7 separate regions of the Homo sapiens genome follow, and regions 1, 2, 3, 4, 6 and 7 are each linked to region 5. Evidence: fine-mapped expression QTL. A gene starts in region 5. Each other region holds a variant in brackets. All regions are shown on one strand. Distances are between the middles of the regions.

Region 1 (4,000 bases), 190 kb before region 5:
TCACAGTCATCTGGAAGGCTTATTAAAATGCTGAGTGCTGGACCCTCCCAGATTTTTGATTCATTAGGACTGGGCAGGGGACCTGAGAATCTGCTTGTCTAACACATCACAGTGATGCTGAAGCTGCTAGCCAGGGGGCCACACTTCGGACACACTGCACGCTGCCCACATGCACCACTTCAGTCAGTGTCATCATCAGAAACACATATACCACCTAAACCCCCTAAACTTTTAAACTCATAAACAAAGCTCCCAGAAGTTAACTCTACAGCAGACATTTGCTTTTGTACATTTTCCTTTGTTTTCAATGGAATTGTAATTTATTTACAATTGTGCAGTATTTCATCTGAGCTAAAAATTAAACACTGCAACTTTAGAAGCTCTGAAGAATTTCCAAGCACTAATTTTCCCTATTTTTCATTTTACTTTTGTTTTCCTTTTGATGGGAGAAAATTGGCATAAACATCACATTCATTTGAGATTTCCAGGGAGACACTGGTCAGGATACATTATAATCCGTATGCCATTAAGATACTCTGTCTTACCTAACAAATGTTGAGCAACTGTAAATTTTAATCTGTTACATGCTGACAGAACTTGAGGTAAGTGATTAAAAAAATCAAGGGTGTTGTTGGTGCTAATCTTAATGGAGTAACTTTCTCAAATGTCTGGATTTATAATTTCTAAATTTTGCCTCCTTAGTAATGACTGTCTGGAAGTCCAGTGAAACAAAAACATTGTGCCCAATTAAGAGCAAGTTTGATTGAGTAAGGAGAGAAACATGGTGATTCCAAGAATGAAAGAAAGCCATAGACGGCAACAAATTCACAGAAGCACATGAGTAGGGTAAAAACATGGTCATTACAGATTAGCTGTACACCTACATTTATATCCTCAAAAACTGTGTGTCCTTTGCAGTAAATATATAGTACTTTGGAAAAATAGATTGTACTGCAATCAAAGGTGAACAAGAATAACATGGACCAGAGATGTGTTAGTTATAACTTGGGACACATCAACAGAGAAACAGATATTTCCACATGTGGCTTGGTTGTTGGACAACTTCCATATGTGTTCTTCTGCTTTGATTAGGAATCCATTCATTAATTTGGTATAACTGAATGTGTACCTTTATTAAATGCTAAATGATATGGACTTTAAACTACCTTATTATGTAGCATATTAACTGCATTTAGATGCATCTATATAAGGATTAGAATTTAATCCAAACAACACTTGACATTCTAATGGCATAAAATGAAATCTGATTAAACATTACTTTCAATTGTGTAATGTTTTAGAAATAAAATATTTTGAGTCCTAAAAAACACTATTCTTTCCATTTCAGATTTGATTTTCCAAATTCTACTTTGTGTTTCCAACTTTGTTTCCTAACAAGTTTGGTTGAGAATAAGGTAAGCACAAATGTGGACATGTGGCATCTATAAGCTGCCTTTTTTCCCCCTTTCCTGTCCTTTTTGACCTGACTTATTGAAAGGAGTTTGAGGTGGGGAAAGAAAGAAGCAGCACGTGTGTAAGATTGTTTTGACTGGGGAAGGAACATCAATTCACTTGCAGGTACACACCCACAGTGGTTCTGGGCACACGGCTGGGCACGCTCTGCTTCATAGATGTTCTCAGTGTAACTACCCATGACACTACTCCATCTTGACGGGGCTCACTGAGAGCTTTCATCCTTTCAACTGAGTGAAGACATATTGTAACCTGGAGCATATCAGCCAGAAGCATGGTTGACAGGTTGGAGCTCCTAGATCCCTCACCCAGGACAGAAATTCTA[C/T]GCTTCTTGTCTGCTAATAGCAAACCCCACCAGCCTTCCCTGTAACTTTCAGGAAAGTTTTCAGCAAACTATGGCTCATGAAACAGACCTGCTCATTGCCTGTTTCTGCATATCCAGTAGATAAGAATAATGTTTATATTTTGAAATGGTTGAAAACACTAAAGAATATTTTTCAATGTTCATAAATAAAGTTTTATTGGTACACAGACACATCCTCTTGAGTACATATTGTCTGTGGCTTTCTTGACACATGGTGAAGTGGAGTGGCTGTGATGGAGACCACATGTGGCACTCTCACAGCTTCACAACTGTGCTAGCCACTCTACAGGTCACAGCAATGCCCTTATAAACTGACCTTCCAACTGCTGCATGTACTTCTGTACTATGAATGGTTTATTTTAAATCTTCATAGTATACCCATCATGTCAAAACACGAAGAGAAAAGTGGACCTCAACTGCCATGCTTTTAGGGCACAGCAGAGTGTGGATTATTTTTATACAGATGAATGGCAGAGCATTGTGTTTCATATGCTGTGCACTCCAGTGGAGCTGAAAGGACTCCAGAAGCATCTATATGACCAGACCAGGCTCACATAAAATCGGCCCAACTCACAGGACAGCAGTGATCAGAAAAACAAAAAAACTTAAAACAGAACATCTCAACACAGAGAATTTATTCAAAAAATAAAAATACATTAAAATCAAGCTACAAGCAAAGTAACTTTCTGAATGGCTTGTTAGCCAAATGAGGAAAGCCATACACCAATTATTAGTTGATTAAATCATGGTTGATTGCAGCAGCCAGAGAAATGCATCAGAGCAAATAAGCTCATCTGAGACTGTTAGGTTTTTGGCTAGAAGAGATGTTCAAGAGTTGAGGGCAAATTATTTTTAATTTCTTTTTTTTTCACTCAATGACTCAACAAATGTTACTGTACTACTTAGTTGTTGTTTAAGAGTGAATAGTCTAAAGTGACTGAAAATTAGTCTCTATGAATTGTCTGCATGGAACAATTGCACACAAGAATATTCTGAAAGGATTTGGGAAGACAAAGATTCAGTACAATCTGAAGTGGAATCTGCTAAGATGTGTTACAACTGCAGGTGGTAAAACACATCAAGAAATATGAGGAGAAAAGGCTTAAACAACTTTACAACACTTGTGGAAATGTAAAGTGTTTAAAACTTATAATTATGTATTATATTATCAGTAGATACTTTGTAGAAAATATTTGAATCTATCACGTTATTAAACCAGTAGCATAAATGATGGACTTTATTCACTCTGGTATATTTAACTTTCATCCTTAAAGTTTTGTCAGAAACGGAAGCTACATGTCCTGAGCTGCCCTCCACACAGCAGCCACATGGCTCCATAGCAGTCAGGTTTTATCGTTGTTGTTGAGCTCAGGATGAAGACAAAATTTTCCAAATCATGAGTGAACTCCCATTCACAATTGCTTCAATGAGAATAAAATACCTAGGAATCCAACTTATAAGGGATGTGAAGGACTTCTTCAAGGAGAACTACAAACCACTGCTCAATGAAATAAAAGAGGATACAAACAAATGGAAGAACATTCCATGCTCACGGGTAGGAAGAACCAATATCGTGAAAATGGCCACACTGCCCAACGTAATTTATAGATTCAATGCCATCCCCATCAAGCTACCAATGACTTTCTTCACAGAATTGGAAAAAACTATTTTAAAGTTCATATGGAACCAAAAAAGAGCCCGCATTGCCAAGTCAATCCTAAGCCAAAAGAACAAAGCTGAAGGCATCACGCTACCTGACTTCAAACTATACTACAAGGCTACAGTAACCAAAACAGCATGGTACTGGTACGAAAACAGAGATATAGACCAATGGAACAGAACAGAGCCCTCAGAAATAATGCCGCATATCTACAACTATCTGATCTTTGACAAACCTGACAAAAACAAGCAATGGGGAAAGGATTCCCTATTTAATAAATGGTGCTGGGAAAACTGGCTAGCCATATGTAGAAAGCTGAAACTGGATCCCTTCCTTACACCTTATACAAAAATTAATTCAAGATGGATTAAAGACTTACATGTTAGACCTAAAACCATAAAAACCCTAGAAGAAAACCTAGGCAATACCATTCAGGACATAGGCATGGGCAAGGACTTCATGTCTAAAACACCAAAAGCAGTGGCAACAAAAGCCAAAATTGA
Region 2 (4,000 bases), 42 kb before region 5:
GCCTCAGCCTCCCGACTAGCTGGGACTACAGGCGCCTGCCACCATGCCTGGCTAATTGTTTTTTGTATTTTTTAGTAGAGATGGGGTTTCACCATGTTAGCCAGGATGGTCTCGATCTCCTGACCTCGTGATCCACCCGCCTCGGCCTCCCAAAGTGCTGGGATTATAGGCGTGAGCCACCGCGCCCGGCCAGAGCTCAGAGTTTTCTAATCTTTATTTCTGAACATAGAAATCCAGATGGCACTTATTGGTGAACACACACACACACTCCACACTTGAAGACACTCTACCTGGCTGGCACCGAGAGGCTCTGCCCCATGCTGGGGCACTGCTGAGCCCTGACTAGCGCGGCCGGGTTGATCTCCAACACGGCAATCTTCCCGCCAAAGAGGGAGGCCAGCAAGCACAGCACCTGCAGGGACGCGGTTTCAACATCGTTAGCGACACCACCCAGTAAAAGCAGACGAAACGTGCATCCGCACACGTATCCTAACAGCTGCTTCATTCTCATAGCAGCGACATCGCCCTGTCACTCCTAAAACGTTTTTACACACAAAATCCCGTTTACTCAGCCAGTCGTTACAGGATCACTCTGAAGAAAGAAGAAATCAGAGGCACGTCTCATAGACAGGGAGGGCCGCGTCTCAGGACTGACCTTTTGATCCGCAGTGCGGTTCCTCAGGGCACACGATCCGGCCAGCAGGATGCTGAGGCTCTGGAAATCTTCAGTTGAGCGAAGACCAGGAAGAACATGATGGGGAGGGAGGTAGCACATACACACGGAGTCACTGCCCAGAGCCCACCACACACAGCCCAGAGCCCACCACACACAGTCCAGGCCCCACCACACACTTTGCAGGCTGTGCACCACATCCTCACACATACAAGGCCCCAGGCCACACACACACCAGCGCACACACCACACACACACCAGGCCCTGAGCGTCACACATGCCAGGCTCCGCTCTGAGGCTGGGATGTGACTCGGACTGAGACCTGCAGCTCAGCCTCCTGGAGAAGCCACATGTCCAGCACCAGATCAGAAAGGAAATGTGTAATTAGAGCTGTGACCATTTGGGGGAAGGAAAGGCTGAGTTTTCAAGGAGAAGCTGCGCCTGGCTGAGCTGGGGAGGGGCAGGGATGGGCGGCTGAAGGGAAGGGCGTGTGTGAAGACACAGATGCATCCCACAGCCCCACAGAGGTCTGAGCGTTCAGGGCTAGAAAGGAGGCACCGAGAGGAGCAGTGCCCGGGAGGCCGCCGAGGAGGCCCTGCTGCAGTGGAGGAGAGGGACGGAATCCAGCCTGCTTTTCAGAAGTCGCCTGGGCTCCTGGGCAGAAAGAGTGCGGCTGGTGGCATCCATGGAGTTAGGAGGGGTGGGGGGATGAGATGGGGGTCTTGGGGGAGGGGGTGGGGGTGGAGGTGACTATTCCTACATTTCTGGAGCTGGCAGAAACTGGGGAAGGGAGCCAGGGTTGGAGAGGAGTGCGCCTCGGCCGGGTTTACGCTGTGCGAGCCTGGGGCTCTGGGAGGCTCTCTAAGGATGGTGGAGAATCCAGGGGCTTCCCAAGGGTGTTCCTGCAGGTGTTCCACGCTGCTGGGGCCCGGGCGGCCTGGAGTGCCAGGCGAGGGCCTGGCAGATGTAGGCAAGGAGTGGCTCCAGGGCTGAGTGCCCGAGGGTCCGGGAAGGGCCCTCGTCCTTCGGATCCAGCAGCACAGAGGTGCTCACGTGCTCAATGCTGAGTTGTGACTGAAGCATCTCATCCTCAGATTCACACGGCAAGGCCTTCTCCACAAACACTTACACTACCCCACATACCAGTCAAAGGAAAACATTACAGTTACATGGCGTTGAAATCAAAGATCTTACCCTTGTAATACAAAGCAGCTTCCACTTCCAGGTTTGCCAGGTTAAATACGAATAAGCCCACTGAGCTTCCGATCCACACACATCGGGTGTTCTCAGAAGAAAGACTGATTTAAGGAAAAAAAGAAAAGAATACACAATAATCTTATTCCTGAAGGTTGGGCCCCACGTGCGCCCCCTGGCCTGGCTGTGAGCTCTCCGCAGGAGTGGGGAGTGTGGGCGTTGGGCCCCACGTGCGCCCCCTGGCCTGGCTGTGAGCTCTCCGCAGGAGTGGGGAGCGTGGGCGTTGGGCCCCACGTGCGCCCCTTGGCCTGGCTGTGAGCTCTCCGCAGGAGTGGGGAGCGTGGGCGTTGGGCCCCACGTGCGCCCCCTGGCCTGGCTGTGAGCTCTCCGCAGGAGTGGAGAGCGTGGGC[C/T]GGGGCAGGTTCTTGCCAGTGAGAACCACATCTGTGCCAGGCTGGCCACATCTGTGCCACCAACGCATTTGTGGTGATCCCCTGGGCACCTGCTAATGTCTGTGAAGACGCTCGCTCTGACCTCTGTGGTTTCTATTTTCTTCTAAGGTTACAGAAAAGGTCAGTGCCAGTGCCTGGGCCAAGGCCACTGCTCAGGTAGCCTCCGAGTGACTAGACTTGAAGGCCACACAAGCTGCCCACCTCTGTGAATAAGGAACCAACTCCAGGAGGAAAGTAGCTGGCCCGAGGCGGCAGAGTTAATACCAATGCCAACGGGGTCTGTTAATACACTGAGAAGCCATCTCCAGGGAGGCTGGACATGGACTTGGCAGAGGCCCCCAGCTGGAACCTGCTTTCCAGACCTCCCCTCTCCAGCTCCGCCCCAGGCAGCACCCTGGGCTCCTCCTGGGCATCCACCAGCACCAGTCCACGGTTCACCCAACGACCATCGTCAACAGAATGGGTCATGTGGCTCTGGCTTAGCTCTGAGGGCTCCCTCTGCTCGAGGTAAGCCAGGGAAGCCTCAAAATGCCTCAGGTCCATGCACCCACCGGGAGCACCGTGTCCAGCCTCCATGCCCACCCTGCTTACTCTCTGTGGTTTGGACCAAGCAGGGAATATTCTGCTCCAGGGGCAGCTCTGCACAGAGACAAAGACAAGCAACGGCCAAGGCCATTCAAAGCAAGGTTGCCCCCTAATCTCAAGCATTTTGGGGAGGAGAAGTAAACATAATTGTAATATATTCTTGAATCACAGTTAAACAGTACTTCCTTATGTTGCCAAATATGTAATAATATTTCTACTGAGCACAGAAATAAATAAAATTAGTCTGGGGTTAACTTTAAATGTGTAATGTATAGCACAGCGGTAGATGGGAAAGTCTAGGCCATTCCAATCACCATTTCCTCTTTCTAAAGAAAAAGTTGTATCACAGAGGCAAAGATCTGCCTAGACTTTGGTAATAAACTTAAAAATCATCCAATTCCTTTTATTAAAGACACTTACGTATCATTGCCCAAGTTTACCAACTTTAAGATTTAAAACATGCAATCCCAAGAATGAAGTTACTAATAATCAGAGACCAAAATAATTTGGTTTTATCTCAGTCATTCTTAGAAAATGAACCTAATGTTCATCTAAGGAATTTAAGAGGTTTCCTTTATGTGGCATAGGCAAAGTTTTTGATACTTACCATCCACATGCAGAATTTGGGATGAGTGAGAGATCACAGGGTGCAAGTCTCAGTACAGGAAATGTTACTTCAACCTGCTCTCCTTTTCCCAGAGCACTTGTAGAGGGAAGCTGGCTTTCTTCTAGGGACAGAATTATTGAGAATCTAAGAAGTGAACTTAAATGCATCCGTCAAGTTTAAAGGCTGAGGACTGCCACACAGAGATGCTGCAGTGAATGTGCACCGTGGAGTCACTCGGATCACGCGTCGAGGAAAGCACTAAGGTAACACCCAGCATGACGCGTGTGCACCACGGAGTCACTCGGATCACGCGTCGAGGAAAGCACTAAGGTAACACCCAGCATGACGCGCATGCACCGCGGAGCATTCGGATCACGTGTCGAGGAAAGCACTAGGGTAACACCCAGCATGACGCGTGTGCACCGCGGAGTACTCAGATCACGTGTCAAGGAAAGCACTAAGGTAACACCCAGCATGACGCGCGTGCACCGC
Region 3 (4,000 bases), 750 kb before region 5:
CACTGGCCCGGCCTGCGCGCTTTTCTGCCCCGGCACTCGCCAGCTGCCCAGTCCAGCTCAAGCCGGGATTTTCCACGGCTGCCTCTGAACGGTCTCCAAGCCGCAGCTTCCTCTCCTCCTTCTGAGCTCCAAGTACCATTGCTATAAGGGGACAGGAGCAGGGTGGGAGATTGTCCTGAGTCTTGACTCTGACTGTGCTGTGTGCAGGGTTATCACCTTTCCACATCCCACTTTCTTCGTCTTTACAGTGGGGAGAGCAACTTTTACCTTTCCCATCCCGAAGCAGGGCTGTGGTGGTAGGAAGATCAAAGAAATTGCTTTAGCTTTTAAAAATAGACAAGAAGCCAACAGTTCTTGGGTGGACGTGTCAGACCTGTTCCCGACAGGACAGATGGCAGCACAGCCAGACCCGCTCAGTGTCCCAAGAGCAGCCCCGGCAAAGCAAGGCGGGAGCCGCCCCTCACCAGCCCAGCTGTGCTCACACACCCCCTCTGCAATGTCGGATGGTTCACAACAGGATTTATCGTTTTCTTTAAAGTCGCCTTGTGGAAACTCTTGTATCCCTTACTCTCTTGTGCTGTTATTGAAGGTTTAATGGGTTCGTTTTGACTCCTCAGATAGACTGTGCTTGATATTTCTTGCAAGCTCAACACGATGGCTGGAACATGTAAGTGTGTGAGTTAAAAACAGTTTGGGCTGCTTTTTAATTAGAACTATTAAAAAAGAATTTTGGTTGCTTTTTAATTGGAGCAATGAAAAATCAAACGATCACCTGCTCAAATCAGAAAATTCTTAGTTTTCCAACTTAGTTTATAATTTCCTTCCTTATATCTTTGGGTTTAATTTGCAGTTCTTTTCCTAGTTTCGGGGGGCAGAAGCTCTGAGCCTTTACTCCAAAACTCTTCCTATTAAATATATGCAACTGAAGCTATACAATTTTCTCTAAGCACTGCTCTAGCTTCGTCCCTCATGTTTTGATACGACACTTTTTATTATTTTTCAATTCAAAACATTTTCAACATCCATCGTGCTCCTATGCGTAACAGCGTGGAAGTGTTTTGTGTGATTATTTCAGTCATCTTTCTGTTGTGTTACAGTGTGATTGTGTTGTGCAGGAAAACATAATTTGTGTGATTTTACTTATCTTTTTATTTTTAATTTGTTGAGATGTGTTTTATGGTCCAGTCTGTTTTGGTAAATGTTCCTTGTTCCCTTGATAAAGAGTTTACACTGCAGTTGTTGGGTGCAGTGTTCTGTATACACCAGTTAGGAACATTTAGTTGTGTCCCTAAAGGCTATTTTTATACTTTTTTTTTTTTTTGGTTTGTTTATTCTCTCAGCTTCTGAAACAGGTGTTAAAATCCTCAACTATGCTTTTGGATATTTCTCTTCTTCTGCTTAGTTAAGTCTTTTTTTTTTCTATACATGTGTAGCAATGTTATTAGGCACGTACACACAATTATGAGTTTTGTATCTTCCTGTTTTTATGAAATGTAGCTTTTATCTTTAGGAATATTTTTGCCTTAATTAAACTCAACTGTCTCGTAGTGCTATAGCTACCTCAGCTGCCTCTTAAACACAATGTGTCCATGACTCCCACTCTATAGACATTTATCTTCAGCCTGCCTGTATGATTTTATCTAAAATGTGCCTCCTGCAAATTTCATATTGTTGGGTTCTCGGTTTTTCATACAGACCATCTTTGTCTTCTGATTAGATTGTTCAGTTTTATACATTTAATTACTAAAATAATTGTGTTTAAGTAAGTCTACCATCCTACTATTCTATTTCTCTTGTCTGTTTTTATTTCTTTGTTCCATTTTTCTTAATTCCTTTCAGATAAATCAAGTATTTTCATGTGCTGATTTTTCTTTTTCATTATATTTTAGTACATTATTTTATTATTCTCTTAGCAGCTACCCTAAGCATCTTTGAGTAGCTAATGTTTAAAGTAGTAATTTTAATATTTCTCTGAAAATACAAGAAGCTTCCAATAGTTAACTCCATTTTGCACTAATATAATATAAAATTTTACTTATGCACACCTTATAAAACTTGCACTACATTTTTACAGTTGTTGTTTTAAACAGTTTTTCTTATTTTCACAGTTTCTGGAGTGTGCTTCATTCCTTCCTGATGATCTCTGCTTACCTGTAGGATCTTCTGGACTTTTCTTTCAGCTCAAGAAACTTCTTTTACTGTTTAATGTCATTCTGTGGCAGGAAATTGATCAACTCTTCTCTGACTTGAAATGTCTTTATTTCATCTTATGTTTAATGAGGTATGATTGCTGTAAAATAAGTTGCATATATTGATGAATACTGATACAGTGACATATTGATTTCCCATGAAAACATGTGTTTCTGTAAGCAAAAGGCTTCCTCATGTTCCTTGGTGTCCATTCCTCCCTCTGTTCCTGTCCTGAGGCAACTGTCAGTTTGATTT[C/T]TGCCACTGTAAAATGGTTTTCATTTTCCAGAATTTCATGTAAATGGAGTCTTGCAGTGCATGCTCTTTCTTACTTTTAACCTGGCTGCTTTAATTTCACCTGACAATTTTGGGTGCATCGTCCACTCATTGCGTCCCCCAGTAGTTTGTTCCTTTTTATGGCTGAGTCGTTGCCCGTTGCATGAGCACAGCACAATTTATCTACCCATTTACCTGCTAATAGACATTTATATTATTTTCTATATTATTTAATATATATATTTAATATATTATTTAATATATTATTTTTATATTAAAAATAAAAAATGATATGAGCATTTGTATCCAAAAATTTGGGTCTCAAATGTATTAATTCTAGGAGTAGAATATCTGAGTCATATGGTAGGTGAATGTTTAATGTTTTATAAATTGACCACACTGTTTTCCAAAACGGTTTACATTCTCAGCCGAAGTGTATAAGAGTTGAAATTGCTCTGCATCCTCACCAGCGTTTGCTATGGTCATACTTTTAAATATTAGATATTCTCACACGAGTGCAATGGTATTGCTCTTATGGTTTTAACCTCCTTTTCCCTAAAGACTAGTACTGTTGAGCATCTTTTCCGTTGCTGATTTGCCATTTGTGCATCTTTTCTTCTTGTTGTTGTTGTTGTTGAAATATCCATTAAAATATTTGTCCAACTCAGTCCACAAATGTACTGAGTTGTTTGTTTTCTTACCATTGTGTTATAAATTATTTATATATTCAGAACAAAAGCTCTTTTTCAGATATTTATTTTGCAAATACTTCCTTTCAGTCTATTAAATAATTTTAATGATGTCTTTTGAAGAATAAAAGATTATAATTTTCATTTTTTTAAATTTATAATGTATAATTTCTTGTGTCCTCTTTAAGAAAACTTTGCCAAACAGAAGATCACTAATCTTATGTCCTATTTTTATTCCATAAATGCTATTAACTAATTATTATTGGCATTTATAGAAAATTCCTCCAGACAGCAGCAAAGTATATCTTTAAATTGAAATATTTCCCAAGATAGCTGATAGTCTGTGCCATAGACTAAACCTTAAACATGAAAAAAGAGTAGAAAACAAGCAAAGTATGTTCTGAAACCATAATGAAATTAACTGAAAATAAACAAAAATATATCTGGAAAATCTCTGAATATATGGCAAATAAACAACACACTTCTAAATGAATGATGGGTCAAAACTGAAGTCTTACACTAAACTAAAAATATTTTGAATCAAAAATTAAAATACAATATATCAAAATTATCAGGATGCAGCTAAGCAGTGCTTTGAGGGAAATGTAGAGTACTAAGTGCTTGTAATAGAAATCAGGAAACACCTAAAATCAGTAATATTACAAACATCTCTATGCCCAAAAGGAAACAACTTACATGAAAATTAAAAATGTTTCTACCTGTAATAATGAACATTTGGAATTTGAATTTTAAAAAAAATGTCATTTGCACAACATGGCTGGGCCTGGAGGACATGATTCTATGTGAAATAACCCAGACACAGAAAGAAAACAATTGAATGATCTCAC
Region 4 (4,000 bases), 360 kb before region 5:
GATTCCTGGTGAACCAGCTTTCTCTCCACTGCAGGGTCTTCACAGGAGCCCAGGAAAAGCTGGTGTCAGAGAAAGACCCCAGGCAATCAGAGCCACACCCTTCCCAGAGGTGCCAGGATCCTCCTACACCCAGGTTGTGCTAGGGCCAGTTCTCCTAACAAGAAGAGAAAGCCTCGGACCCCAAAGACAGCCTTTGTGCAGGACGGAACCACCCACCCAGGTCGGCCCATTGCAGAAGGAGGCAGCCAGAGCCCAGTGAGGAGGGGAGGCCACCAGGCCAGGGAGCAAGCGTCTCCCAGAGGTGTCGCTTTCCCTCAAGATCCAATTATCCATGACATTTCAGGAAGGTATATCCATCACCTAGGAGGTTCCTCTGGGCGACCACTGGCTACCTTCGGCCACAAACCTTTCTGGTTAAAAACATGAGGAAGTTTAAAAAATGCATGACACTTTTCAACTTTTAAAATTGCTAACTATGAAGTTCTAATGTTTGGAGACCTTTATGATGACCCAACTCCACCTAATGAATAGCGAATATGTTTTCTCCTCCCTATGACTTTTTTAATAACCTGTTCTTTACTGTAGCTTAGGTTATTTTGGAATGCAGTATATAATACATATAACAGCAACACGTGTCCATCGTTTATGTCGTCCCGAGGCTTCTGGTCAATAGTAGGCTATGAGTAGTTAATTTTCTTGGGGGTGCAAAGTTACATGAAGATTTTCAAATGTGTGGGGAGTCAGCACCCCAACTCTTGCATTGTTCATGGGTCAGCTGTGTATATTTTAGGCCCCATGAAACAAGGAGCTGTGTGACCAGGGCCCTGAGCAGCCTCCAGACTGGCCATACTGCCCGGCTCCATCTGTGCACCCTCTCCCTGGCCACACTCACCCGACTTAGATGTCCGTCTGAGCCTGCCACCTGTCACACCCACACCAAATTCTGGCATGTGTCCTGCCCAGATGACTTCACCTGCTGCAAAGCTCCTTCAGCGTCAGGTCTCTGCCTCCTTCTATGTCTCATCCTCTTCCCCACTGTTTCTTCTCCACTTCCCATGCAGGTGAGCCCCTAACAATGACCAAGACCCCCGTCCTTAACCCCACTGCTCTTGTCCAAGAGGGAATCACACTGTCTGGTTGATACGTTCTAGGCTGGAGTTCGCCTTAGTCTCCAACCACTTCAGGCCTTTCTCAGTCCAGCCCATTGTCTGTCTGCTCAGTGAACCTTCCTGTTAACTGCCTCTGTCGCTGCAGTTCCTACAAGATCCCGCCGGCCCCAGCTGGGAGGGCTGGACTGGGTGAGATATTTAGTCAGAGGCATCCTGGTAGTAGAGGAATCTGAGCAGTGTTTAAGGAAGAAACCCAAAGATCAAGCTTTTGTTCATATGTAGGCTTACTCTTAGCATGGCCACACCACCTCCCTTCCCAGGGCCTGTCCTGGTTCACGCCTGAGATGCTATGGAATTATGAACGGCCACTTGCCACTCTCAGAAGGATCCCAGTCCCCGCTCCCGATGATAAACTATAGAGTCACCCAACTTAAACACCACAATTTACACACACTGCAAACTCATCTATTTTCCCAGGGCTGTTAATACTGACATAAACTGGACTCACTCAGCCTTGGGGACACTGGAGGGTTTACACTCCCACAGAGGAAGAGCCTGTGGTGGACGCTGGAAGCCCTTCGATTACACAGAAAGAAGGAAGGTGCTTGCAAACACATATATTTTACTATTGACTTAGGTATCAGTTTGCATTGCTATAGAAGCTTACATCAGCTTCTATTAAAACTAGGTTCTGGGTTCCT[G/A]GTTCTGACTCATATGATTTTGGGAAGAGTGTTGGAACTCTGTGCCAGCCTGTTCCTAGGGAAAGGAGCCAGGACTAAGGAGCTGGGCAGAGATGGTGAACCGAATCGTGCCCTCATTGTTCAGAGAACAAAAGACTGAAGACTCCCAGAGGCATAAAACAGCTTCCATGTCTCACTCACGTGGTACAGCTGTAAGGGTGGGGCAGAAGGTTATATGCATATGGCTATTTTTTTTTTTTTTTGGAGACAGGGTCTTGCCCTGTTGCCCAGACTCCAGTGTAGTGGTGCAATCTCAGCTCACTGCAGCCTCAACCTTCTGGGCTCAAGCAATCCCCCTGCCTCAGCCTTCTGAGTAGGTGGGACCACAGGCATGCACCACCATGCCTGGCTAATTTTTTGTAGAGACAAGGTTTAGCTATGTTGCCCAGGCTGGTCTCGAACTCCTGGGCTCAACCAATCATCCCCCTCAGCCTCTCAAAGTGCTGGGATTACAGACATAAGCCTCTGCACGGGCCTCATAAGGTCATGTTTAGAAAAGATCATTGTTACCCACAATCTCAGGATCAGCCAAGTTGCATAACTCCACAGCTGCCATTCACATTTCATTCTTGGATTAGGTGGGTTCACTGTGCTAGATACCACAGGTCAAAAAAGATTGTCTGGGCAATGGTCTAGAAAGTGTGAAAGGAAATTAAATCTTGGGACCCCAAACTCATTAAGCCAAAGGGAAAAATTAAGCTGAGAACTGGGTGCTGCAAACCTGCCTCCTCTTTTTGGTTCCTAATTGATGAAAAGCTACATGCCTCTCCCATATTTTGCCCACAAGGAAATTCCTAGTATGCTCCAAGATCTTTAATCTAAGGTGTTTCTGTGACGATTTCACCACGGCAATGTAAATTGACAGCTTCTCTTTATAGCTGCACTCACCCCCGGCCCACCAGACATAAATGCATATCTGATTGTTCCCCTGCCCCATTTTGTCTGTGATCTTCTGTAAAATGCAGATTCCCTAGGTTTTTCCTCTGCTCCATCTGTCTACGTTGTCTTATGTTAAAAAAAAAAAAATGCAGATTCACTGAGCCAGACAAAGGCATGATTATTTTTCCCTATCCCACATCTTCCATGAAAATTGTGACTATCTCACCCTTTCCCCTTTAAATTTGGAGCCCTCAGAATCGTCTTTGGAGAAAGGCATAGATCTGTCTCCTGGGCGCGCATTCTTAACTTGGCAAATACACCTCCTAAAATGATTGAGACTTGTCTCGTCATGTTTCTTGATTGACAGAAGCTAACACAGAGAACATTTTTAGATGAGAAACCCAATAAATTTTAAGAAGTTTGCAGAGTGCATTGTAACACGTGCCCTTGGAATCAACCCTATGATCTTCTCTCGCTCTCTCTTTCTCTCAGTAAAGGAATACACGGTTCTTATTGTATATACATTATTGTAATAAAAACAAAGTCACACCTGCCTAAGGAACGAGGTGCCACATCCTCAGTCGGAGCCTCTGGGCAGGGCAGGAGGCAGGAGGTGCTCGAGGGAAGTCTCACCTGCCTCTGCCTGAATCCAGTTGCTTCAGAGGCTGAGCACACCGTGAGCCAACTTCCACTTCATTCGTCAGGAAACCTATTAAAATGTTCACCTGGGGGTGAAGGTTCCTTGTGGTTCATATTCATTTTTAATCCATTTGTTATTTTTGAGATGAAATTTCTCCTGGGTTGAGAAATGATTTCAGTTTAGGGGAAGTATTGGCTGTGTCACTGTTTTCCACTCATATTCTTATTAAGAAATATATTGGCTTTAAAATATTAAACTTTGACTGACTTTATTCTTTTGCTACTTTGGTCCTTGGAGACAGCCACAGAGCAAACTGTATTCTACTCTTTTGGATTCCCTTATTGTCACCATGTCAGGCTTACTTAGGCAGTAGATGCATGATGCGAGGTGTCCCCAGGTGGCAGGGCAGGGAGGTCCCTCAGAGACAACCCACTCCCTGACCCTGATCCCATTCCTGACACCCGGGCAGCGGCACCAGGCTGTGGCTGCAGCAGCACGATCTCACCAAGGGAGGATCTGTTTGTTTTCCAGGTCTGGACTTCATTCTTCGCTCAGCTGGTTGTTATTACGGCCTTTGCAGTAGCAGCGAGAGATTAACCACAGCCAAGTCTCTAAATTTTGACACAGATTCA
Region 5 (4,000 bases):
TTTTCCACTAAGCCACTTCCCTTTCCTTCTAGACACAGAACTAAACTACACTCCCTAGCTTCCCTTGCAATTAAGTGCAGCCATGTAGTCGTTGAGTGCCTGGCCCATAAATTCCTCCTGCACTGCCTCTCTTCTTTCCCCACCCACTGGCTAAATGCGGAGAATTCAGAGGGCCTAAGGAAAAAAACCACAACATGGAAGAATTTTAGGCTGCAGCTTGCAGAGAGCTGCCCAAAGGAATCGTCTGACTAGAAACCGCTACACAGGACTGTGTGAGCAAGAAACATGCAACTGTTCTATTGGGGTGAATTGCTACAGCACTTAACCTACCTCCACTAATATAAATTGTTTAACATTTTTTTGAATTACAAAAGCAATACAATACAAAACATTTAAACAATGCAGAAATAATAAAGTTTTTTATCCCTACCTCCTCTCCCTGCTGTGCCAACCCTAGGGGATAATCAATGTCACAGGATATCCCCAGGAATATCCATGTACATACATGCACAGAACAAGTCAGGGAAAATAAACTAAATTTATTATTTTAGTGAGATTCTAGTGCACCTAACACTAGGTAAGCACTTCAGGAAAAGGCAGTGACAAGTGATTGCTAAAGATACCATAGTCTTAAAGTTAAGTCAGTAAACACAAGATAGTAATCCCAGATAAACTGGAAGCTGTAGAGTTAATACTCCTTTACTGGTACAGAGCAGTGTGTGTAAATTGTAGAAAATTTAGAAATACATAAAAAGATGAAAACTCTACTACTCGAGGAGTACCACTGATAAAATCCTGTGCATTTCCGTTTTTTTAATGTACATACGAATATTTTTAAAAAGAGAAAATTACTCCCTTCTGATTAGAAAAGATCGAAATTTTTCTCTTTTAGTGATAATCAAGTCAGAAACTTGCTGTTTGGCTCGAGTTAGGAAAACCTAGCCTGGTAGTTACCACGCAGGTTGAAAGGCCAGTGGGGCATAATTAACGAGCCCTCAGGGTCCACGCTCCCGCCCTCGGAGCTCAGAACCGACGGGAGGTGCAGGAGGCCGGGCATTTCTACAGCCCTGGTTCGTTCCTAAACTACTGAATCTTTTAAAGAGATCTGAGTGCTCCTTATACACAGCTGCTTTAATTAAAATAACCACCTGAGCCCTTTTCCTCCGAACTCCACATGCGCTCAGTTCTCAAAGCGCCGATCTCAAGCGGCCGCCCGGATGCTCCGGCCCGACTTGTGCCCCGAATTCCCCTGGAGACCCTCGCACTAGCACGGCGTCAGGAGGAGGCTTCGGGTGACGAGACAGCGGGCAACGGCTCTGGTCCAGAGCGCGCGTGTCCGCCGTTGGAAGCGGTCACGGCGGAACCCTCAAATCGCCCCCTTTCCTAGAGACCTCAGCGGAGCCGCGAGCAACCGCGCAGCCCCCGCGCTCCAGCCCTGCGCCCTAGGCACACGCCCCAGAGCAGCAGCTCGGGTTCGGCGCCGACTCCGCGCCGAGACCAGCCCGCTAGGGGAGGACTCACAGCACCCAGCTCCCAGGAGGGCACGCAGAGGACTACCGAGCCACACTCCGCCCCACGCTCGCCGCTATGGTTACTTGCCAGCCGACCCACGCGAGCCGCTATGGTTACTAGCCCGCCGCCCCTCGCGCCCACGCCCCTTTCGCTATCTCGCGACAGCTGGAGAAGCCTCGCTTCCGGCCGGCTCACTTACGGACCTAGCGTCACTTCCGCCTCCGGCGAGGCTCCGGCCTCGGGTCCGGATGTATAAAGCGCGGCCCCCTGCGGGGAGTGGTGGTGAGTCCGAGGGTGCCACAGCGGCCCTGCCCCTGCCCCTGCCCCTGCCCTGAGTGGGCGCCGCGCTACGGGGGAGGGGTTAACCCACCCCTCCTCCCCGGGGCCTCACGCGGGTGGGAAGGGACAGTCCCAGCGACAGACCAGGCGCCTGGACGCGCCGTGGACCCGCGTGCGGACGGCGGGGACAGGCTCCGGTGCTGAGCGCCTCCGGTGTCCCCAGCAGCACTGACCCACTTGCAGGCCCCGGAGCTGAGCCGCCAGCCATGGCCGCTCCCCGCGGGAGGGCCGCGCCCTGGACGACGGCCCTGCTGCTGCTCCTAGCCTCGCAGGTCCTGTCTCCGGGAAGCTGCGCGGACGAGGAGGAGGTCCCCGAGGAGTGGGTGCTCCTGCACGTCGTCCAGGGCCAGATAGGCGCCGGGAACTACAGCTACCTGCGGCTGAACCACGAGGGCAAGATAGTCCTCAGGATGCGCAGCCTCAAGGGAGATGCGGATCTGTACGTCTCCGCCAGCAGCCTGCACCCCAGCTTCGACGACTACGAGCTGCAATCGGCCACCTGCGGCCCGGACGCCGTGTCCATCCCCGCGCACTTCCGGCGCCCAGTGGGCATCGGCGTCTATGGACACCCCTCCCACCTGGAGAGCGAGTTCGAGATGAAGGTGTACTACGACGGCACGGTCGAGCAGCACCCGTTCGGCGAGGCCGCCTACCCCGCCGACGGCGCAGATGCCGGCCAGAAGCACGCTGGTGCCCCGGAAGACGCCTCGCAAGAGGAGGAATCTGTTCTCTGGACGATATTAATTAGCATTTTGAAACTGGTACTTGAAATTCTCTTTTGAGTCGTTGACCACACTCTGGGATATAAAACCCTCCATCTGTGAAGCTGATTGCAGTTTGCTGTGAACCTTGCTACTTGTACTTGGTTGAAGTTCTAGGTACCTTTAGTCAAGGGATGGAAAAATAAAGCCATACGCAGTTTTGTTACCTCAGTTACCCCAAAAATAGGAAAAGCAGCAAGCACAGTATTTTAAAGATCATAATTCCTATAAAAGGACTGTGCACAAAGTGTTTAGACTCCATTTTCATTAGGCAGGTTGACTAAAAATGATTGCAGTAACAGGTTTATATAAAATAGAGCAACCTTTCATGCTGTGACACAAATCAAAAGGTTGATAACTTTGTAATTTTACTCTGGAGATTCTAACCGAAGTTGGTGTAAGTTTTCAAGAGTTACTAAAATCAAGTTGGAAATGATTTACGTACACTTCCCTGAGCCTGGACTAAAGCCTCATGCCTGTACCCCAAGTAGGTGATGGTACTTTTCTATACAAAAAGGATTTCCTGGCAGGCAGGTATTTACAAAGTTTGTTCCTGTACCAGTCCAATAATGACAACTCTAAATCCAGCTGCACCAAATCTTAGTGGGCCATTTGTCATACCTATGAAAATTCTTCAGTTATTAAATAACTTTGTCAGTGCTACCTATGGTAGGCCGGAAACAATGTAGATTAGGAAGTTTCATGAAAATTAACTTTTGGGGCTATGGAGAAACAGTTAAGTATCTTAAGTTACTAAACATTTCCACTGAATTTTTGGAGTGAGCCAAGGTTACTATAAAATACTTTGGAAGATGAATTCTCTACCTGGAGTTAGTTTCGAGAGTAAGCGTAGCTTTTAACAGAAATAACTGCAGATTTTAAGCTCATAATTTGCAAAAAAAATCTTTTATTGGCATGAAAATAATGTTGTAAATGGCACCAAATATTCCACTTAAATGCATATACAGTATTAGAGTCAAAAACTATTTTATCCCTCTTTGCTGTTTTTCCCCCTTCTGCCCACTTTCCTGGGTGTTGGGGGGGCCCGCTGACAACAGTCACAAATCCAGCGACCTAGGAAAAAAATTGTTAATATAGAATGAAAAATTATCTTTACAGGACTGAATTTTAAGCCCATCTAAACTCTTCTGCCTTAGCTATCACTAATGATATTCCTCTCTGGATTTTGTGGTGAGAAGGGCACTATGAGTTCCTTAATTTAAGGAAAAAATGTAAACTTAATCAATGTAATCAATGCCATGCAAAATTCATTGCAAGTCAAGGGGGATGGGAGAGATGCAATGCCATACGGTGATACGGACCTTTAAGAAAGTACAATCTTTCCTGAAATTCAAACACTATCATACTTCAAAAGGTCAAAACCCATT
Region 6 (4,000 bases), 95 kb before region 5:
CAATGAAAGAAACTACAGATAATACAAACAAATAGGAAAACGTCCTATGCTCATGGATCAGAAGAATTAATATCATTAAAATTAACATACTGCCCAAAGCAATCCATAGGTACAATGCAATGCCTTTCAAAATACCAATGTCATTTTTTACATTAAAAAAAAAAACACCCTAAACTTCATAAGGAACCAAAAAAGAGCCCAAATGGCCAAAGTAATCCTAAATAAAAAGAACAAAGCTGGAGGCATCACCTTCCCTGACTTCAAATTATACTACAAGGTTATAGTAACCAAAACAACATGGTACTGGTATAAAAATAGACATATAGACCAATGGAACAGAATCTAGAACTCAGAAATAAAACTACATATTTACAGTCAACTGATCTTTGAAAGCTGACAAAATCAACAATGGGGAAAGGACACCCTTTGTAATAAATAGTGCTTGAAAAATTGGATAGCTATAGGCAAAAGAATGAAATTGGACCCTTATCTCTCCCCATACACAAAAATAAACTCAAGATGGATTAAAGACTTAAGTGTAAAACCTGAAACTATAAAAATACTAGAAGAAATTCTAGAAAAAACACTTCCAGACATTGGTCTAGGCAAAGAATTCATGACTAAGAACTCAAAACCAGAGGTAACAAAAATAAAAATAGACAAATATGACTTAATTAAACAAAAATACTCTGCACAGCAAAAGAAATAATCAACAGAGTGAATGGAAAACCTGCAGAATGGGGGAAAACTTGCAAACTATGCATTTTACAGGGGACTAACATCCAAAATTTACAAGGAACTCAAACGACTCAACAAAAAATACCACAAATAAATCCATTAAAAAGTGGGCAAAGGACATGAATAGACATTTTTACTTTATTTAAAGTTCCAGGATACATATGCAGGATGTGCAGGTTTGTTAACATAGGTAACATGTGCTATGGTGGTTTGCTGCACAGATCAACCCATCACCTAGGTATTAAGCGTCACAAGCATCAGGTATTTATCCTGATCCTCTTCCTCTCCTTACTCCGCTGACAGGCCCCAGTGTGTGTTGTTCCATTCCTTGTGTCCATGTGTTCTCATTGTTCAGCTCCCACTTATAAGTGAGAACATGCAGTGTTTGGTTTTATGTTCCTGTGTTAGTTTGCTGAGGATAATGGCTTCCAGCTCCATCCATGTCCCTGCAAAAAACATGATCTTATTCCTTTTTATGGTTGCCTAGTATTCCATGGTGTATATGTACCACGTTTTCTTTATCCAGTCTATCACTGATGGGCATCTGGGTTGATTCCATGTGTTTGCTATTGTGAATAGTGCTGCAATGAACATATGCATGCATGTATCTTTATAATAGAATGATTTATATTCCTTTGGGTATATACCCAGTAATGGGATTGCTGGGTCAAATGATATTTCTGGTTCTAGGCCTTTGAGTAAATGCCACATTGTCTTCCACAATGGTTGAACTAATGTACGTTCCCACCAACAGTATAAAAGCCTTTTAAAAGAGGATATACAAATGGCCAGCAAGCATATGAAAAATGCTCAACATCACTAATCATCAGAGAAATGCAAATTAAAACCACAATGAGATTTCATCTTACACCAGTCAGAATGGCTATTACTAAAAAAGCAAAAAGTAACAGATACTGTCAAGGATGCAGGGAAAAGGGAAAGTTTATACAATGCTGATGGGAATGTAAATTAGTACAACCTCTACGCAAAACAATGTGAAGATCTCTCAAAGAACTAAAAATATAACTACCGTTCATTTCAGAAACCCCACTGCTGGGTATCTACCAAAAGAAAAAGAAGTCATGATTTCAAAAAGACACATGCACTCATATGTTTATTGCAACACTGTTTATAATACCAAAGACATGGAATCAATCTAAGTGCCCATTAACAGGCGACTGAATAAAGAAAATGTAGTATACTTGTGTGTGTA[T/TAC]ACACACACACACACACACACACACACACACATATAATATAATATTATTCAGCCATGAAAAAAATGAAATCATGTCTTTTGCAGCACATGGATGGAAGTAGAGGGCATTATCTTAAGTGAAACAACTCAGAAACAGAACGACAAATACCACATGTTCCCACCTATGTGTGGCAGATAAATAATGTGTACACATGGACATAGAGTATGAAACCATAGACACTGGAGACTCAGAAGGGTAGAGGGTGGGAAGGGGATGCAGGAAGAAAAATTATTTAATGGGCAGAATGCACATTATTTGAGTGATGGATACCTTAAAAGCCCGGACTTCACCACTACAAATCTAACCATGTAACAAAATTACACTTGCACCTCCTAAATATATACAAATAAAAAATAAATAAGCAATAATCACTAGAAAATGGATGTTGTTGGCTGTTTGCTGAGTACTAAGAAGATGCCAGGAGTTAACTACACAGTCATGCATCACTTAATGCCGGGGATACATTCCAAGAAATATGTCGTTAAGCAATTTTGTCCCTGTGTGAATGTCACAGAGTGTACTTACACATACCTAGATGGTGTAGCCTACTACACACCTAAGCTGTGTGGTGTAGCCTATTGCTCCTAGGCTACAAACATGTATAGCATGCAACTGTACTAAGCAACTGTAACACAATGGTAATTATTAATATACCTAAACAAAGAAAAGGCACAGTAAATATATGGTATAAAAGGAAAATGAAATCTCCATACTGTTTTCCATGGAACTAAAAGTAGATTTCTTACAGCACTAAAAGCAGATCTGGCATACAATCCAGCAGTCTCACTACTTGGTATCTACCCAAAGGAAAATAAGTCATTATATCACGAAGACACTGTGTGTGTATGTTTATTGCAGTACAATTCACAATTGTAAAGATATGGAACCAATCTAAGTGCCCATCGACCAATGTATTAGTCCATTTTAATGCTGCTGATAAAGACATACCCTAGACTGGGCAATTTACAAAAGAAAGAGGTTTAATTAAACTTACAGTTGCACATGCCTGGGAAAGCCTCACAATCATGGTGGAAGGCAAGGAGGGGCAAGTCCCATCTTACATGAATGGCAACAAGCAAAGACAGAATGAGGAAGAAACCTCTGATAAAACCATCGGATCTCATGAGACTTATTCACTACCACAAGAACAGTATGGGGGAAACTGCCCACATGATTCAATTATTTCCAACCAGGTCCCTCCCACAACACATGGGAATTATGGGAGTACAATTCAAGATGAGATTTGGGTGGGGACACAGAGCCAAACCATATCATTCCACCCCGGCCTTCCAAATCTCATGTCCTCACATTTCAAAACCAACCATGCCTTCCCAACAGTCCTTCAAAGTCTTAACTCATTTCAGCATTAACCCAAAAGTCCACAGTCCAAAGTCTCATCTGGGACAAGCCAAGTCCCTTCTGCCTATGAGCCTGTAATATCAAAAGCAAGCTAGTTACTTCCTAGATACAATGGGGGTACAGGCATTGGGTAAATACAGTCATTCCAAATGGGAGAAACTGGCCAAAACAAAGGGGCTAGAGGCCCCATTCAAGTATGAAATCCAGTGCGGCAGTCAAATCTTAAAGCTCCAAAATGATCTCCTTTGACATCAAGTCTCACATCCAGGTCACACTGATGCAAGAGGTGGGTTCCCATGGTCGTGGGCAGCTCTGTCCCTGTGGCTTTGCGGAGCATAACCTCCCTCCCAGCTGCTTTCACAGCCTGGTGTTGAGTGTCTGCAGCTTTTCCGTGCTCATGGTGCAAGCTGTAGATGGATCTATCATTCTGGGGTCTGGAGGATGGTGGCCCTCTTCTCACAGCTCCACTAGGCAGTGCCCCATTAGGGACTCTGTGTGGAGGCTCTGACCCCACAATTCCCCTTTGCACTGCCCTAGCAGAGGTTCTCCAAGGGAGCCCCACCCCTACAGAAAACATCTGCGTGGGCATCCAGGTGCTTCCATACATCTCCTGAAATCTAGGCAGAGGATCCCAAACTTCAGTGCTTGAC
Region 7 (4,000 bases), 140 kb before region 5:
AGGCTCACCCATCTGCCCTGGGAGTGGCCCTGACTTCTCTTCTAGCACTGGAACGCTCCATGGCTCCCATCTCCCAGCCCAGTTTTCTGGCCCTGCCCCCATTCCGTCAGCTAGCCCTTGATGTGCCTCAGGTAACCAAACGCGTGAGTGAGTGAAGTAATGAACGCCCGCGTCCTCATGCCAACACCCATGTGGACCCCACACGCAACCACAGGTGCAGAACGGGTCGGGAGTTAAGTGACCATGCCAGGGACCAGCACACGAGAGCCGGGGAGACCCCCACCAGGTACGCTGTCAGCGAGCACTCCCTTCCACCAGCCTGAAGCCTCGCCGAGCTGAGCCCAGTCTAGCCAAGCCTCAGAAGCCTCCCGGCCTGGGAGTGCAGTCCCGCCACCTTGCTTACACGGCGGGAGATGTGTTCTGACCAGCACGGGATAGAAACTGCGAATCAAGAGATACCTAGTACTCCCTTCCCAGTGAACAAACTGCTAACGTTGTTGTGTGTGCTTCTGCCGAGACTGAAGGCCAGTTTCCAAATGCAAAGCCTAATTTTTGGGGGGCAAAATTTTATACCAAGATTAAACTTTAGTCACTCACCAGAAGACTAAATTTTAATATGCAGTTCTACATAATATTCTAAATTAGAAACATCTAAGGAAATCCAGACTGTATTTCAGATAAGGCGGAACACTGCCCCGCATCTGGGATCCATTTAATATTTCAAAGGGACCCTGAAGTCTCATCCCCTAAAAACACCCCCACCAGGTATTGGAAATCTGTATTTCCCCGCTTGTCTTACGCAGTGGAGAAACTGAGTGTCCCGTTCACAATGTGTGTTCATAATCACACAGATGCTGGAAGGGTTCGAGCATGCACACAAGCCACTTCATTTCCTTTACTTAATCTGTTCCTAAAGAGTCAATGTTAAAGAACAAGTTTTGTAAACCAAGTAACATTTTTAAAATTATTCTGTTTTTAGGGATAGGGTCTCGCTCTGTTGCCCAGGCTGGAGTGCAGTGGTCCAATCCTGGCTCACTTGCAGCATCGACCTCCCAGGCTCCCGCGTAGCTGGGACTACAGGCATGAGCCACCACACGCAGCTGATTTTTCATTTTTGTAGAAATCAGGTCTCACGATGTTGCCCAGACTGCTCTCCTGGGCTCAAACGATCCTCCTGCCTCAGCTTCCCAAAGTGTTGGGATTACAGGCGTGAGCCACTGCACCTATAGCCCCATTTTTTAATTAACTGATAATTATGAGCTCAGCTTTGACTTTTATGATCAATGTGTCTTCAATAGCTCAGTTTTGTCTGTTGTTATTCATTAGAAGAAACCAGATCAATTATGTAAGAAATAAAACATTTTGTAATGTATTGTTACTCGTTAGAAGGAACCAGATCAATTATGTAAGAAATAAAACATTTTGTAATGTATTGTTACTCGTTAGAAGAAACCAGATCAATTATGTAAGAAATAAAACATTTTGTAGCGTAAACAATAGCACCACTAGACAAAGCTCTGATTCTGATTTCTAAAATTCCTCAAGTCAATTCTGAGAGTGACAGCAGGGAAGAAAGCTTGTGGCTAGACAGCAGCCCTGCTCACCTGGGCAGTGGTGAGGGCAAGGTGGTCTGACAGCCCTTGCTCCTGGCAGGGAGCCCCCA[A/C]CCCACAGAGGGGCCGGCCCTCCAGCACCTGCCACAGACCCTGAGAGTGGCCACTGTCCCGGGGGCCTCGAAGAGACTCTCAAACCACGTCACGGGATGAGAAACAAAATGACAACTCAAACTATGTCACGTGATGAGAAATGACATAAATATTTTGACGATGACCATTAATTGGTTCTCACTGTTCTGTCATTTATTAAGATGGGCATGTACTGAGTATTTTTGTATTGTTTAAAACAAATAGCCAAGGAACCTGAATTTCGGGGCCTGTTGGAGTTGAGGCAACGTTAGAGACTACTGGAGCACTCACTCTCACCCTGGGTGTTGCGAGGCTGCCACGCATACATCCTGTAGAAACGCTTTCTAAAAAGGATAATCAGATTCCAGTGTGGGGGATTCGGACAGTATCAGGACTGAATTTGGTAACAAAATCAGCCATAGTCTGTGCTTGACTAAGAACATGCACAGATGTGCATTTGAGACAGTGGATAACAAGTGTGGACACTGAAACTGGGAACTCAACTGTAAAAACAAAATTAATATTTACTCTACTTGGCTCCATTTATTAAAAATGCATAATAGGCCAGGGCAGAGGGGAGGCATCCCACATAGAGACACCTCAAGTGCTGGGCAATGCCTGAGAGCCTCAGGCACCAAGCAGGCCAACAACGATGTCTGCGTGCCCCAGAGTCTGATAGGCAGCAGCCCGAGCCAGGTGGGGCTGTCTGGGGGACCTTTGGAAATGAGTCAGGCACTTTGGGCTGTGACAGTGACACCTGGGGTGATCGGTGCTGCTGGGGAGGACCCGGGATGCCACACATCTGGCATCATGTAGGTCAGTCACGCACACTTTGGCTTTGTCCGTGATAAACACCATTTGAACGGGGCCCTTCCCTGCAGGTGTGAGGAGTCCAGGTTGGCGCAGTTACAGAGAAGGGCACCCTCACAGACGGTCTGCGTGGCAGAACAGTGCATGTGCCTGTTGTGGAACTGACTAGTTTAGGAGTATCACTTTCTGGCCAGTGTGAAATTCCCAGTAAGATGTCCTCAAGTTCTAAGTAGCTTGGCTTCTTATAGAGACTTCCTGGCTAAATGAAGCCAGGGCAGGAACTCCTGGGGGGCTCCCTGACGCTCCCCAACAGCAAAAGATGAGAACTTCACACACAGCACCAGGCGCAGACGCTCTAGTGCAAGAGCCTAGGAGGTGCTTCCAATAACCACAAGCAAGACTGAAGGCGGCGTGCTGAGAAACACAGTGTGGCCCACACCTGTGCCACGCTCTGAAACAATAAAACTGTACTGCCGGGAAGAAATTTTGGAAGCTCTCTCCAACCCCTTCAGCCCCACAGCGGATTCCTGTCTTAGAAGAGGCAAAACCCAGGGCTGCGAGTCCTGCTTTTTAGGATGCTCCCAGGACCTGCACCTCTCTTTCCACACCAACTTGGAAGCTGCAACTCTGAGAATAAAGTCGGAATCCCACAGAAGAGGAGTGAGAGCGGCGGTCCACTGTGTTCCTAGAGAGGCTGGCCCTTGTACCCCAGCCACTCTGCAGACGTAAAGCTGGGAGGAAGGGCCGCCAGCTCCAGTGCTGAGAACACAGCGCAGAAAAGCAGCATCTGTGTTCCAGGATGAGTAAACAGAGACCCAAGGGAGCTGCCGAAACCGCACTGTAAAGGAGAGGGAGCGTCAGCTCCACCAGGAAGAGCGTCTCCCTCAGCAGGGCTTGGGGAGACCAGTGGTTCTCAAACAGGTCCGTGGAAGCCTGAGTCTGACAGCAATCACTCAGGAACCACACTCAGGAACCACAGACTGAAGGAGAAAGAGGCAGAAGGTGAGTCCCAGGCTCTGCCACCACCCAGCCAGAAAGCCCCCATGATTGTGCAAGGTTCCATTTGGACAAAGGGTTTCAAAGTAAAAAAACACTGAAAACCACTTCTGAAGGAAAAAAAACATTTCTTATAACATACTTGCTCCACATCTAGTACATGTCTTCCATGAAAAATAAGCAAGAATCTGTAGGAGCCAACAGGAAAGGCACAGCTGAAATGAGACAGCCATGCCCAGGGAGTAAGGACACAAGCTCACTCTTCAAGTCACTGCACTCACTACTTCAAGTCACTAAGCTCAGTAGGGACCTGCAGCTGTGGGAAATAAAGTGGATGATGTAGAAGACCCAGTTGAAAACAAATTCTCAAAATGCTGAAGAAGAGAACATAAACCCTAAAATGCTCACTTTCTCTTTTCAAAGAAAATAAAATTAAGCTAATTGGTTGACAAACAGGGAAGACCCAACTTTCCAATCCTACATATTCTTGAAGGACAGATGGAAACGGATGG

What was found. PIP is the estimated chance that this variant, and not a neighbour inherited with it, causes the effect.
Region 1: its variant is the best candidate, but not a certain one, in a credible set for the expression of WDR27 in lung (GTEx, PIP 0.82).
Region 2: its variant is the best candidate, but not a certain one, in a credible set for the expression of WDR27 in whole blood (TOPMed, PIP 0.61).
Region 3: its variant is the best candidate, but not a certain one, in a credible set for the expression of WDR27 in liver (GTEx, PIP 0.73).
Region 4: its variant is the best candidate, but not a certain one, in a credible set for the expression of WDR27 in unexposed skin (GTEx, PIP 0.78).
Region 6: its variant is the best candidate, but not a certain one, in a credible set for the expression of WDR27 in whole blood (INTERVAL, PIP 0.57).
Region 7: its variant is the best candidate, but not a certain one, in a credible set for the expression of WDR27 in whole blood (TOPMed, PIP 0.59).

Annotation. Positions count from the first base shown.
Region 1 is chr6:169,505,775-169,509,774 of GRCh38, forward strand. All of the region lies in intron 25 of WDR27 (WD repeat domain 27), which reads right to left. Among named protein-coding and RNA genes, the nearest start is that of LINC02519, 120 kb to the left of the region's middle. The variant C/T (reference allele first, on the strand shown) is at 1,799.
Region 2 is chr6:169,658,796-169,662,795 of GRCh38, forward strand. It overlaps WDR27 (WD repeat domain 27), which reads right to left. Exons shown (of 26, transcript NM_182552.5): 9 at 3,509-3,629; 10 at 1,868-1,971; 11 at 656-723; 12 at 291-412. Among named protein-coding and RNA genes, the nearest start is that of WDR27, 41 kb to the right of the region's middle. RefSeq lists an enhancer at 2,124-2,623. The variant C/T (reference allele first, on the strand shown) is at 2,278.
Region 3 is chr6:168,950,950-168,954,949 of GRCh38, forward strand. LOC105378146 (a long non-coding RNA gene) reads right to left here. Exons shown (of 4, transcript NR_136250.1): 3 at 2,152-2,290. Among named protein-coding and RNA genes, the nearest start is that of LINC01615, 210 kb to the right of the region's middle. RefSeq lists an enhancer at 1-26. The variant C/T (reference allele first, on the strand shown) is at 2,446.
Region 4 is chr6:169,340,981-169,344,980 of GRCh38, forward strand. LOC105378148 reads right to left here and starts at 3,533. Exons shown (of 4, transcript XM_017011621.2): 1 at 3,279-3,533; 2 at 1-59. The variant G/A (reference allele first, on the strand shown) is at 1,811.
Region 5 is chr6:169,700,403-169,704,402 of GRCh38, forward strand. WDR27 (WD repeat domain 27) reads right to left here and starts at 1,627. Exons shown (of 26, transcript NM_182552.5): 1 at 1,149-1,627. It overlaps C6orf120 (chromosome 6 open reading frame 120), which reads left to right and starts at 1,724. Exons shown (of 1, transcript NM_001029863.3): 1 at 1,724-4,000. The coding sequence starts at 2,058. The coding sequence ends at 2,633. PHF10 (PHD finger protein 10) reads right to left here. Exons shown (of 12, transcript NM_018288.4): 12 at 3,500-3,686. The coding sequence ends at 3,601. RefSeq lists enhancers at 1,181-1,260, 1,581-1,670 and a silencer at 1,721-2,090.
Region 6 is chr6:169,605,442-169,609,441 of GRCh38, forward strand. All of the region lies in intron 22 of WDR27 (WD repeat domain 27), which reads right to left. Among named protein-coding and RNA genes, the nearest start is that of WDR27, 95 kb to the right of the region's middle. The variant T/TAC (reference allele first, on the strand shown) is at 1,952.
Region 7 is chr6:169,564,715-169,568,714 of GRCh38, forward strand. The region is part of intron 25 of WDR27 (WD repeat domain 27); the gene reads right to left. Among named protein-coding and RNA genes, the nearest start is that of WDR27, 140 kb to the right of the region's middle. The variant A/C (reference allele first, on the strand shown) is at 1,664.